Homo sapiens: one gene and its partners. The protein of the gene in region 1 purifies or fractionates together with the protein of each later gene. This does not show direct contact. Each region holds a gene or a part of one and is shown on either strand. Other genes may lie near its edges.

Evidence for each region.
Region 2: the proteins of SMIM11 (region 1) and TMBIM4 purify together in Homo sapiens (co-immunoprecipitation; one large-scale study listed by IntAct). This does not show direct contact.
Region 3: the proteins of SMIM11 (region 1) and TTYH3 purify together in Homo sapiens (affinity purification with mass spectrometry; one large-scale study listed by BioGRID and IntAct). This does not show direct contact.

The regions. Positions count from the first base shown.
Region 1 is NC_000021.9:34,380,942-34,386,152, reverse strand, and holds part of SMIM11 (small integral membrane protein 11), read right to left. Parts: intron 676-5,211; coding exon 511-675; 3' UTR 509-510; intron 1-508.
Region 2 is NC_000012.12:66,149,497-66,152,996, forward strand, and holds part of TMBIM4 (protein lifeguard 4), read right to left. Parts: intron 2,881-3,500; coding exon 2,775-2,880; intron 1-2,774.
Region 3 is NC_000007.14:2,638,486-2,641,985, reverse strand, and holds part of TTYH3 (protein tweety homolog 3), read right to left. Parts: intron 1-3,500. UniProt on the Homo sapiens protein: Calcium-independent, swelling-dependent volume-regulated anion channel (VRAC-swell) which plays a pivotal role in the process of regulatory volume decrease (RVD) in the brain through the efflux of anions like chloride and organic osmolytes like glutamate.

The DNA.
Region 1 (5,211 bases):
TGGCAAATGAGGTCTGGGTTAAGACCAGACTGGGAAGGGATTTATTTGTCATACCATGGAGTCAGACTTTATCTTAAAGGTAACAGGGTTTCTTAATCTTGGAATTTCAAATGACCTGTGACTCCCCACATCTGCAAACTTCTCCCCACACACAAATGCAGATGGTTTCAGTATGTGTGCTTCTCTGGGAAGAAGGTCCACAGCTGTCACTGAGTCCTCAATTCTTAACCCAATACCTGTCAAGAACCATTGCCACCGCAGGTTTCAAGAAGGATGAACTAATGCTCCGTGCACCTTGGCTCAGCAGCACTCACATCCCAGGACCAGGATCTGCACACCTGGCCCTTTATGGAGCAGTTCTACCTTAGAGAACAGGTGAGGCCACATGCCCCCACGCAGCCCTTCAGACCCGACGGACAGGGAGGTCTCAGACCTCTCTTGTTCATTGATTGGTCACCCCAACCCACTGGCCAGCTCCCATTTGCAAGGTTGGGTACTGTGGACTCACCTTCAGTTATCTTTTTTCTCTGATTGCTTCTTCCTTTCAGCCTCCAGTTTTTGTTGTTTTGCCTCCAACCTTTTTCTTTGATACATTTTCACCCCAGCAAATGTCAGGCAGAGAATTAATGTTTTTGCTGCCAAGATATACAGCAGCAGGGGCACGTGCTCAAGAACCTTCAAGAAGAAAGAAGCCATGCTAACTAAATGTTCCATCACCGATATGGGAGGTTTCTTTTATGATCCTTCAGTCAACAAATATTTACTTAGCACCTATTCTGCAACAGGCACGAGGATAGGGGGCTGGAGCTACACTGGAGACCAAGCAGAAAAGGTCTCTATCCCCATGGGGCCAACAGTCAAGTTACAGCTCTGCTCTTTGCTGCTTGCTTGCGGCTGGCTTCATGGAGGGGACCACCGGTCATCCACAGGCGTGGGGACTCTGGTCTCTCACAGCTCAACCGTGCAACCTGCTGATCACCCAGGCCCTTGCTTCTGAGGCAGCAGCCAGATCCAGTGAAAGGAGCTGGAGCCCGGAGGCCTGGGTCAGAGCTCTACTTTACCACCGACTGACCGTGTGACCTGGGTCAGGCAATGAGCTCCTTTCTTTCTGAGCTCCTGCCCCTTCATCTACAAAGTAAGGGTGAATCAGACCTTGCTTCTGGAAACTGCAGCTTTAGTACTCTGGGATTTTCTCTTGTTTCTAGAGACTCACTAGCACTGGCACTTGCTGGTAAAATAAAACACGACAGAACTCAAAACATTAAAACATGGCTACTTACTAACTGCTCTTGCAACCCCATTCACTAAAATAAAGTCTAGGGAAACACTATGCATTTGAATTACTCACTCTTTGCACTAGTAGGTTTTTTGTGTGAAATTCTATATATTGCAAATAGTACTTCAAAGCAATATTAGTTCCATACACATGGTTAGCATGACCTGAATGATATGTATGTGCTTTTTGTGTGATTAAAAATTCCCTCCCAAATAGTGAAAAGGTATGCTCTGGTTGAGCAATCATTATTTTAGAGGACCAGGTAGGATTTTATCCCAATGAAATCCTTATTTCTGTCAATCACTTATTATATGAAATACCAATGAGATTCCACTGTGGGGGATACATGTGCACCTCCCTCTAATAGTCTAACCGAAGTTGATCTGAACCTAGTTAGTGTGTACAATATGCTCACAGAACCGGGGGGCTGGAAATAACTTTCAAGGGGACCTACTCAACCCCCTGGTTATATGAGCAAGGAAAGAAGAGCTCCTGGAGGTTGAGAGGTTGAAGGTCCCACAGCTCCCTCATGAGGAGCCAGTTGGAAGGACATTCTAACCCCGGGGCCAGTCTCCCTTCCACTGATGCCTGATTTTCAACAAACTGAAATTCATGAAATCACAGTGTATGTAGATGAATGTTCCTATGATTGTATCGAAACTCTTTATGACTCAGAACTAGATGTGGATTTCACGCTTAGAAGCTGTAGCATCAGCTGCTGTAGACTGGGAACTCACGGCATGCAAAGTGCCTTATGCGGCTTTCCCTTCTGCCCTTAGCCACCTCCATGAGCAGATGGCTCGCCCTGACTGCGGTGGAGCCGAGAAAATGCAGAGGCGGGGAGGCCAGCAGTCAGCGAGGCAGGGCTGACCCAGCTCCAAATGCTCCAAAGCCCAACTCTGTAGCATCACGCTGTCCTGTACTATATATGATTCATTCCTCACACCCATCCACTTCACATTTACAATATGCAAATACACTATGGCTTGGCTACTGAATTTTCCAGAGGCAACTAGACTCGCTACCTCTGAAATCATTTAACTGGTTATGTATGGATATTTGCAGAAGGATATAGCATGATATGATAGAAATACAATGAAAATCATGGGAGGAGGCAGGGACGCAAATACTTAAATCGTTTTAATTTTACTAAAACAGTAAGAACACAAGAACACTCAGTAATTAGCTAATAGTTTTCAACCATGATATCGTTTTAACAGTAAAGAATAAGCACAACACATACACTTCAGAAAGATCACTCTGGCATCAGTACAAAAGACTAAAAAGTTCCAAAAGTGAAACTTTTCAACTTTTTACTCTGGTAAATATAAGGAGCTTTAAACACTGACTTCATTTCCAGGTTCTTCTTCCCTCAGACCTAGGCTAATCCCCTCCCTCCAGTAAACCCTGAAATCCTGTTTTCTTGAAGGTTCACATTTTAGAGGTGAAGGTTTGACGCCATGCATACAAACCAGCTATGAAAAGAATGTTGTTGTATAAACTTCTTTTTGTTTGCTAGGATTTTCCAGGCTACCTGAGGCAATGACTCACACTGGGAAAAGCTAATCTCTTCCAGCTTTCTCAGTCTCTCTGAATAAACCTATGGGGCCCTATTATTATTATTATTTTTCTCGAGACAGAGTCTTGCTCTGTCACCCAGGCTGGAGTGCAATGGCACCATCTCAGCTCACTGCAACCTCCACCTCCTGGGTTCAAGCAATTCTCCTGCCTCAGCCTCCCAAGTAGCTGGGATTACAGGCATGCGGCATCATGCCCAGCTAATTTTTTGTATTTTTAGTAGAGACAGGGTTTCACCATGTTGGCCGGCTGGTCTCCAACTCCCGACCTCGTGATCCGCCCACCTCGGCCTCCCAAAGTGCTAGGATTACAGGTGTGAGCCACTGCACCTGGCCGGGGCCCTATTACTAATATAACAAAGCCCATGTTACTGCCCATAGCTGTCTACAATCCAGATAGGAAACTTAGCTTTAGCAATTGCAGGAATGTACTCTCTCATCCAGAAGTTAGAAAACCCATGGAAATGGAAACGCATCAGCCAATGGACCCTAGTGGGAGGCTTCAGTGTTCACTTTGTTTTACAGGCAGTGGAGACGCACGGCAAGAGGCAGAAGTGTGGACTGAGAAGGACGCAGCACAAGGGCAGCAGAGGTCAAGAACATTCACAGGGTAAAGCGAAGAGCTCCAGGGCCCCCTTCCTGCCCCTCTCTTAGGCACTAACCTTCAGTGGTATGAACCCCTTCCTCCAATTTCCTTTTAACAAACCCCTTACATCTCTTGAAACATACAGACCTTCAGGGAGGAAAATGAATGCTGCCAGGGTGGACTGGATCTATATGAATATTTTTTTGAGACTCCAACTAGGCTGGAGTACAGTGGCATGATCACGGCTTCCCACAGCCCTGACCTCCCAGGCTCAAGCAATCCTCCCACCTCAGCCTCCCGAGTAGACGGGACTACAGACACATGACACCACGCCCAGCTAATTTTTTCTGATTTTTTGTAGAGCTGGGGTCCCACTATGTTGCCCAGGCTGGTGCTGAACTCCTGGGTTCATGTGATCTGCCCACCTCAGCCTCCCAAAGTGCTAGGATTACAGGGGTGAGCCACCATGCCTGGCCTAGATCTACATCAATTTTTAAAAACAAAACCCCAATATCTGTGAAATGGGAATAACTAAGTTTTTAAATAATGAGGCCATACTTGTTGCTAACGCACAGGTAGCACTGTTGACTGTCGCTGCCGGCCATGGCCCACTGAGCCAGAGGGGGAAGGCCACCAGACGCACTGGGGGCTACTGAACCTTCCACCTTCTGCAGCTCTCTGCAATCAGGGCCATGACTGTCTTTCTTTTTTTTTTCTTTTGAGACAGGGTCTCACTCTGTCGCCCAGGCTGGAGTGCAGGGGCATGATCTCGGCTCACTGCAACCTCCACTTCCCAGGCTCAAGCAATTCTCCAGCCTCAGCTTCCCGAGTAGCTGGGACTACACGTACGCATCTCCATGCCCAGCTAATCTTTGTATTTTTTTGTAGAGACGGGGTTTCGCCACATTGTCCAGGCTGGTCTCAAACTCCTGAGCTCAAAGTGATCTGCCTGCCTCGGCCTCCCAAAGTGCTGGGATTACAGGCATGAGCCACCACGCCCGGCCTGCGGCCATTCCTTTCTAACACTACACGAGATGGGGCTGTGTTTAAACACGAAGCTGCTCCCTGGTAGCCACTTCCCTGGTGCAGAAGCTGGGAAGGTTTGGGCAGACTTTGTTCCTGATGGCAGAAAAAACTGTCACAAGCAAGACTGGCCCGAGTGGTCACATGGGTTGGTGTCACTCTACAATTAAAGAGGAAAACTTCCCACGCATTGCCTTCGACCAGTGTGCACCAGCACCGCCTGGAACTTATAAGAAGTGCAAATTCTCAGGCCCCAGCCAGATCTACCCAATCAGAAACTCTGGGAGTGGGGCTCGAAATCCTTGCCTTAACTAGTGCTCAGGAGTGAGAAACACCACCTTGAGGCATGAGGTTTAATGCTTTGAACCCTGGCCCTTAGTACCAGTTACTGCCTCTCTCCTCTACTGACTTAGCCACTGCAGTGGGCGAATGACCTCCCTAAACCTCACCCCACACTGCTTTCCGCTCCTTCCCCTCTCCATCCTCTCACTGCCTCTTCTTTCCTTCCCAACCTTTCCACTGTGAGCTCTGATCCTCAAGGCATGCTAAACAAACTGTTCTATATCTTCCCACCCTTCACAGCTCACTCACTCTGCCATCTTTAACTTACACAAGTTCCTGGGCCCTCAGCCCTCCTGCAGGGCCTGCCGAGCCCCTCACCCCACACAGCTGGGGAAGATGGGAAAGCTACCTTCCTGGCTCCCTGATCCTGCTTCCAGACCTTTCCAGTTTCTCCTTGCAATAGAAAA
Region 2 (3,500 bases), on another chromosome or scaffold:
CAACATGATTATACTATATTCTTGCTATTTATGACAAGATTTTAGGAAAGAAATCCCATACACATTCAAGTATCTAAGGAAACAGGATGGTATAAATAAGAGTTAAGATAAGACTAGGAAAACATGATAATGTCCCTTTAAAACATATACACACATGCTCCTCGAGTTACAATGGGGTTACATGCCAATACACCCCACTGTAAGTTGAAAATATCGTAAGTAAAAAATGTAGCTCAGAGTGTCTTTGGTTAAAGAATCACCAATGCTTAAAGTCTGAAATTTCGTGGTTGCATATTGCTTTGACACCATCATAAAAGTGGAAAACATTAAGGTGAATGATTCTAAGTTGAGGACTATCTATCTATCTGTCTGTCTGTCTATGTGCATGCATACACACACACACACACTCCTACTAGGGCAAGATAAGATTCACCTCCTTTCTTATCTTGGTGGATCAGGACCAAAAAACTCCTAACGTTAAAGGTCCCTGAGTAATTTAAGGAAATGTATTGTACATACTTATTTGTTAAACCATTTTTAGCTATGGGCATGATGAATAGATTTAACAATCAGTGATTATCTTGCCTATAAGCATTTGGTTGATACTTTTCTAGTGGGACCTCTCCCTGCTGGGCAAAAGTTGAACCACACCCTCTTCCCACACAGAAATCAGTCTTTCTGAGAGGAGGCTACATGTAGATGCGAAGAGGAATTCTATATGGCCGTCTTTTTTTTTATACTTCCTCTTTCCTGAGACATAGCTGACTAGGCCAGGAGTTGGCTCTTACCCAAGGCCTGGCAACCCATATATTGACTAACAGCCTACAATGTGACCTGTGCCAACAACCAAGTGTACCAATCAGATTCTTTCTCTCTCCTTTCTTCCTTCCTTCCTTCCTTTTCCTTTCTTCCTCCCTCCCACCCCCCTTTCTTTTTAAGACAGGGTCTCACTCTGTCACTGAGGCTGGAGGGCAGTGGCGCAATCTCAGCTCACTGCAACCTCCACCTCCCGGTTTAAGTGATCCTCCTGCCTCAGCCTCCCAAGTAGTGGGACTACAAGCACGTGCCATAACATCTGGCTAATTTTTGTATTTTTTGCAGAGACAAGGTCTCACTATGTTGCCCGGGCTGGTCTCGAACTCCTGAACTCAAGCAACATGCCTGCCCCGGCCTCCCAAAGTGCGGGGATCACACAGGCGTGAGCCACCACGCCTGGACCAGATTCTTTCTGACTCAGGAATCTGAACTCAGAGATTGAAGCAATGGCAGTGGGAGCTAAAGTTAAATGACTCTGGGGGCAAACAATGGGTCATATAAAAATTAAAGATAGAAAAAGGGAAAACAATGTATAAGGACAACTGAGGTAGAGAAGAGATGTAATAGAACAAGGGAGAGGGGAACACAAACATTTGTCACTGAATTTCCTATGATATCATCATTTCTGGAATCTTCCTCCAGTTCTCCAGTTCATCTTCTTGAAGAGGATTTGGGTTGGTGGGTTCTCAAGCTCTTACATCCTTAAACTCCTTGTTATTTGCAATAACTTGAGTTAGAATTGACAATCTTGCAAACAAAAGAGCTTAAGATTTAAATGAATAATCTTTCCTATTACTGAAACTTTCAAAGTCATCAGCTTTTCATTTTAACACAAACTCATTATCAGAATTCATAAACTTTTTAGTTTAAAGCATTTTAATCTAATCAATAGCTTTTCCCACTCGTATTTGACTACAAGTATTCTTTTTTTGTTTGTCTGAGATGGGGTCTCACTCTGTCACTCAGGCTGGAGTTTAGTCACGTGATCTCAGCTCACTGCAGCCTCCACCCCGCAACCCCGTTACAGTGATCCTCCCACCTCAGCCTCCCAAGTAGCTGGGACTATAGGTGCACACCACCATGCCCAGCTAATTTCTGTATTTTTTTGTAGAGGTGGGGTCTCACTATGTTGCCCAGGCTGGTCTCAGACTCTCGGACTCCAGCAATCTGCCCACGTCAGCCTTCCAGAGTGCTGGGATTACAGGCATGAGCCACTGCACCCACCCAAGTATTCTTAATATTACTTTGGAATGTTCTGAAGTAAATTTTTAGGTTAGAATCTAGTCATACTGGATGAGAAGAGGCAAAATAATTTTTTAGACAGATAACTTGAGGCTTATCCCCTTATTCTGGTCATATTCTAAACTGAATTTTCATAAGTGGTAGTTTGGGTTTTAATTTTCACAAATATCTCAACATACATGACTTAAAGTTGGGTTCTCCCAACTATAATTTTGAAAAAAGTTACTAATGCACATAATTTGAGCAAAATGGTTCTTTAAAAGATCAGAGTGATAAGATAATAACAAAGAAGAGTTAACAATAAAGAATTTGAATTTTATGAAATTAAAGCCACAACATAATTTTCTCCAAAGAAAATAATAGAATATTAGAGGTAGAAGGTATCACAAGGATTTATCTACTTTAAAATTCTCATTTTACATATGAAAAAACTTAGACACAGAAAGGATAAATGCCTTGCCAAGTGTCACATAATCAGATAGCAGCAAAGCCAGGTCATCTATTCCAATTCAGCATTTTTTCCACTACATACTAATATTTGAAACTAATAAACTGTTAAAAGTTTTAAAAGACTATAAAATTACAATTAATTTCCTAAAGTACTCTAAAAAAAACTCATTAATTTTGTTCTGCCGTTGTTATATATGTATTATATATGCATTTATTTAAAACTCAGGAATAATTGTTAAGGGAATAGAGAAAGTCAGAGTACTCACAAATCCAAAAAGTAGGTACAGGTTAAGGGGATACTTATGTCTGTTTAAAATCAACGCAAAAATCAAACCCAGAGATCCGAGGGCAAACAGCAAAATTAAGGCAGGACTGAAAGACATAATATTAAGTGTTTCAAGTTAAAGAAAAAATAGCATGAGCAGTATTATCAAATTTAATAAAATTTATCTATTTTATATGTTTATGAAAGTACAGGGGAAAAAATCTGGAATGATCCACACCAAACTATCAAATTATTTTATATCTGGAAAATTTGAGGAGTACAAGGTAGAAAGGAGCCTCAAGACAAAGAAAAGAGCCCAAAATGAATGGGGGAAACTTTTTCTTTTTACCATATAAACTTCTATCACATTTGAATAATGTTTGCAATTAGTATACTAATATTATACAATAAAGAAATTTAAAAATAACAACTACTTTCTTAGGATATTTGCCATATGGCTGTAATTTAAATTAAAGAATTTTACCTCACATAGCAAACTAATAGTTCAAGACTCCCCTTTGGTGGGGAGAAGGGAAGGGAGGACAGAAATTCTCTACTTCTATGAAAATATTCATTAGTTCTCCTTTCCTTTAATATAACAAAACTGTATCATGGAAATAATTATGATTCATCCCTGATTAAAGATCAGGGATGAATCATGTGGAGCTCTTTTGAAAACTTCTTGGTGAAATTATGCTAGTCATGAGCCAAAACTAAAATGAACGCA
Region 3 (3,500 bases), on another chromosome or scaffold:
TGAGGAAGGAGATGGCGCCTCCCTCAAAGGGAGCCCACTTGGGCTGCCCGGGTCCCAGCCCACCACTGCGAGCATGCAGAGCCTGGGTGTCAGGGTGCTCAGCAAACCGGGCAGCTGCTTCATCCCACGTCAGAGCCCCGGCACCCAACGCGCCAGGCCTGAGCCCAGCTGTCTGCGGGGAGCGTGCCGTGGCCAGCCTGGCCTCTGCACCCACTTCCCGAAGCCAGATTCCCAGCAGACGGTCTCCTGCGGGGCACCGGGCCAGCGGCATTCCTACGGTGGCCCAGCCACCTCTCTCCACCGGGCTGGCGGCCCCTCCGCCCCTCCCTGGCCCATTCAGAGAAAGAATGGGAACTGTCTGATCAGCAGCTGGGCTCTGACCAAATGGAATTTTCCGTCTGTGGTGGAAGTGATGTAAGGGCTCGGTCAGGCGAGGCGAAAACTGCACGCTGGGTTCCGCGGAGCACACGGAGAGGACTCAACTGCCACACATGTGCCAAGGGGGCTGGGGGCGACCCCCTCCTGCAGCCTCAGTCCCCCTGCCCCCACCCTAGGGCTCCTGGTCTCGGCCCTGGGCCACCCCCTCCTTCTCCAAGCCCCTGCAGCCCCACAGCCACAGACGGCATCCATGGGGGATGCCCCCTCCCACCGTGAGCCCAGACTCCCCCGACTGCCCCGCAGCCCCCAAAATGCAGCCCCCAAAACCCCACCAACTCTGGAAACACCCAGCCAGCCAGAGAGCCGGGGCCTGAAGCCTTACTCTGTCCCAGATCAGGTTGCTACCGATAGGATCCCAGTATACCCTGGGCCAGAGCAAGACCTCCCTGGCCTGGCAGGGATGCCTGGGGCACTGGCTGGTGAGGAGCGGGCAGGGCTGGGGTGTGGCTCGGGGCAGGGCTCTGTGGCCTCTACACCCAGGCATATGCTGTCCCTGGGCCTGGAGCCTTCCCCTTCAGGGAAGCCCCATTGTCCCCATACACAGGCCATCTCCTCCAGGATGTCCCCAGGATATTAGAGACCCAGGCCCAAACCCGGTGCTGCAGCCTTTGCTCTGTGTGAACCTCGGCTGGCTCCGCACTTGTAAGGCGAGACCCCCAACCTGACCTGGCTGCCTGCACAGGTGGGTGGCCCCAACCCAGCCCTGCTTGGAGAAGGGAGGGCCCAGTGAGCCACAAGGCCTTAGGACGGCCCACGGGGCACTTGAGCAGACGACGTGCACGAGCAGCTGTGAGGCCTGTGCCCCACGCCTGCCGCGGCCTCCTGGCCATGCCCACTCTGCCTCCAGGCCCTGTCTGGACGTGACTCCCATCAGCCACACAGACACAGGCACCCCCCAACGCAATGCCAGGCTCAGCGCCAGCACAGGCCACACCACACCAGGCTGCCAAGGTGGGAGGGCCATGCATGACAGCAGGGCAGGGCACACTGCCTGCCACCTGCACAGGTGGCTGCTGCTGGGCATCCTGGTGGCTCCCGGAGCACCTGGTGGCAGGACCTGGGCCTGGCAGCGTGTGAGGAAGCATGCCACTCGGGAGGGTGCACAGCAAGTCACGGCCGGCCTATGGAACACACGTCCCCCCCCACACACACACAGGCGGCTGCTCTACATGCACACGCCTGGGAGCAGCTGCCCACCCCGCTACCCTGCGCCACGGACCCACACGCCGCTCTGTGCCACCAACCTGTGGGCTACCGTGGCGCGTGGCTGGGCTGAGGAGGCCCTGGCCCACTGGGGGGTGCTCACAGGGACTCTGATGAGAAGTTTGGCCCGATGCAGCCTCCAGCCCCAGCCACAGGCAGTGGCCACGATCCCACCACCCTGCCATTCCAGCCACGGCTGCTCGCTCCTCGGCTGGACACTGCTGCGGGTCTGCCCTGAGCAGGGAGGGAAGCGAAGACATAGGGCCCGTGTCCTGGAGCCACGCTGCTAGGCACAGGGAGTTCCAGAGTCCACAGTCACACAGCGGGGGCGGGTGAGCTGGCAGGCCAGGCAGCGTGACCACAGCTGAGGATGATGGCTGCCCGAGGCATTGGGAGAGACCAGCGAGCCCCAGGGGTGCAGCCACGGGGCACGGTGAGCAGGGGTGGCAGGAGAAGCAGCCCCCGGTGGCCAGAGAAGGGGTGGGCAGAAGGTGGGTTCCAGCCCTGCCCCGCCCCTCGTGCCAGCTCCGTGTGGAAGTGACACAGCTTGGAGGAGGGAAAGGGACAGGCTCCACAGAGGCCACTGAGGGGCCAGAACCCCACCAGAGGTGCCGGCATGTGACAGACACACAATATGGTAACGGCCACACAGCCTGACTGCAGTGGGGACAGAGTCACCCCCGGCTTCCTGGATGGGGACGGAGTCCCCACACTGACGGCTGTGGTCCTGGCTGGGCTCCGGGCTAATTGGGAGCATCAGCTTCCAGGGCATCTTAGCAGCAGCTTGCGCTGGGTGCTGGGGCCCAGGCTTGGACAGACAGCTCGGCCGCGCTAGGTCGGGGGCTCCCCTGTGCCCACAGTGCTGGCCCCGTGAGCTCGGAGGCTGTGGGAGGCAGGAAGAGGAATGAGGCGGTCACTGAAACTCCCGTTGTGGGGAGCATCGTGGGTACCGCAACAGGTGGGGGAGGGCACTCTTGGCCCGGGGACAGTGTCAGCCAAGGCCTGGCACAGGGTCCAGGCGGCAAACGTCTCCTGCATGCCGAAGATACACTGGCAGCAGGGACCAGCCAGGCCCTGGCCTGAGCCTGTGCGTATGGCAGCAGCACGGGGCTCCGGGAGGACGTGGCAGGCGAGAGGTGGGAGTGGGAGGGGAGTGACCCCCACCTGCCTCCACGGATGCTGAACTCCAGCCCTGGAACTCCCAAGGCCCCTCCTCCAGAGGAAGCAACAAGGTTTGGGGGTGTCTGAGAGGCTGGCTGGGGTCCCACACCCCAGTGCAGACCGAGGGGTTCTGGCCCCCAGCACTGTGAGAACCCCCCAGGTGTCCTGGGCCAGGGTCAGGAAAGGGGCGGGATCCCTAGGGCCCAGACTTGTTTGGGGAGGCCAGGGTGGGCTCGGCGTGTGCGAGCCACTACCACCACCCCCATGTCAGGGGCCCGCCACTGGGAAGTGGGTCCCCCTACCTTTGCCTCGTGGGTCCCCTTGCACAAGTGGGGGGTCCAGGGTCACAGTCTTTGGCTAGGCCTCAGCCCCCCATGCGGCCAAGCTGGACACGTGGCCCCAGCCCCTACCCATAGCACACTCGGCCCAGGCTCCCAGCGACACTGGCCCAAAATTAAAAACAGATTTTCCACCAGGCTGGGTTTGGGTTTCACGCATTCCATGACGGTGAGCTCCTGGCCGTGCCTGGAGGACGTGCAGCCAGCAGCGGCCACGTGGGAGCCGGGGTCGGGGCCAACTTTGTGTCCCTGTCCCCAACTCCTGAGGTCCGAGGTCCAGGTCGCCAGGCTGCACATGGCCCCACACCCCCCGGGGCTCCCTCCGGGCTGGCCCTCACCCTCCAGGAATGGCCTGGAAGG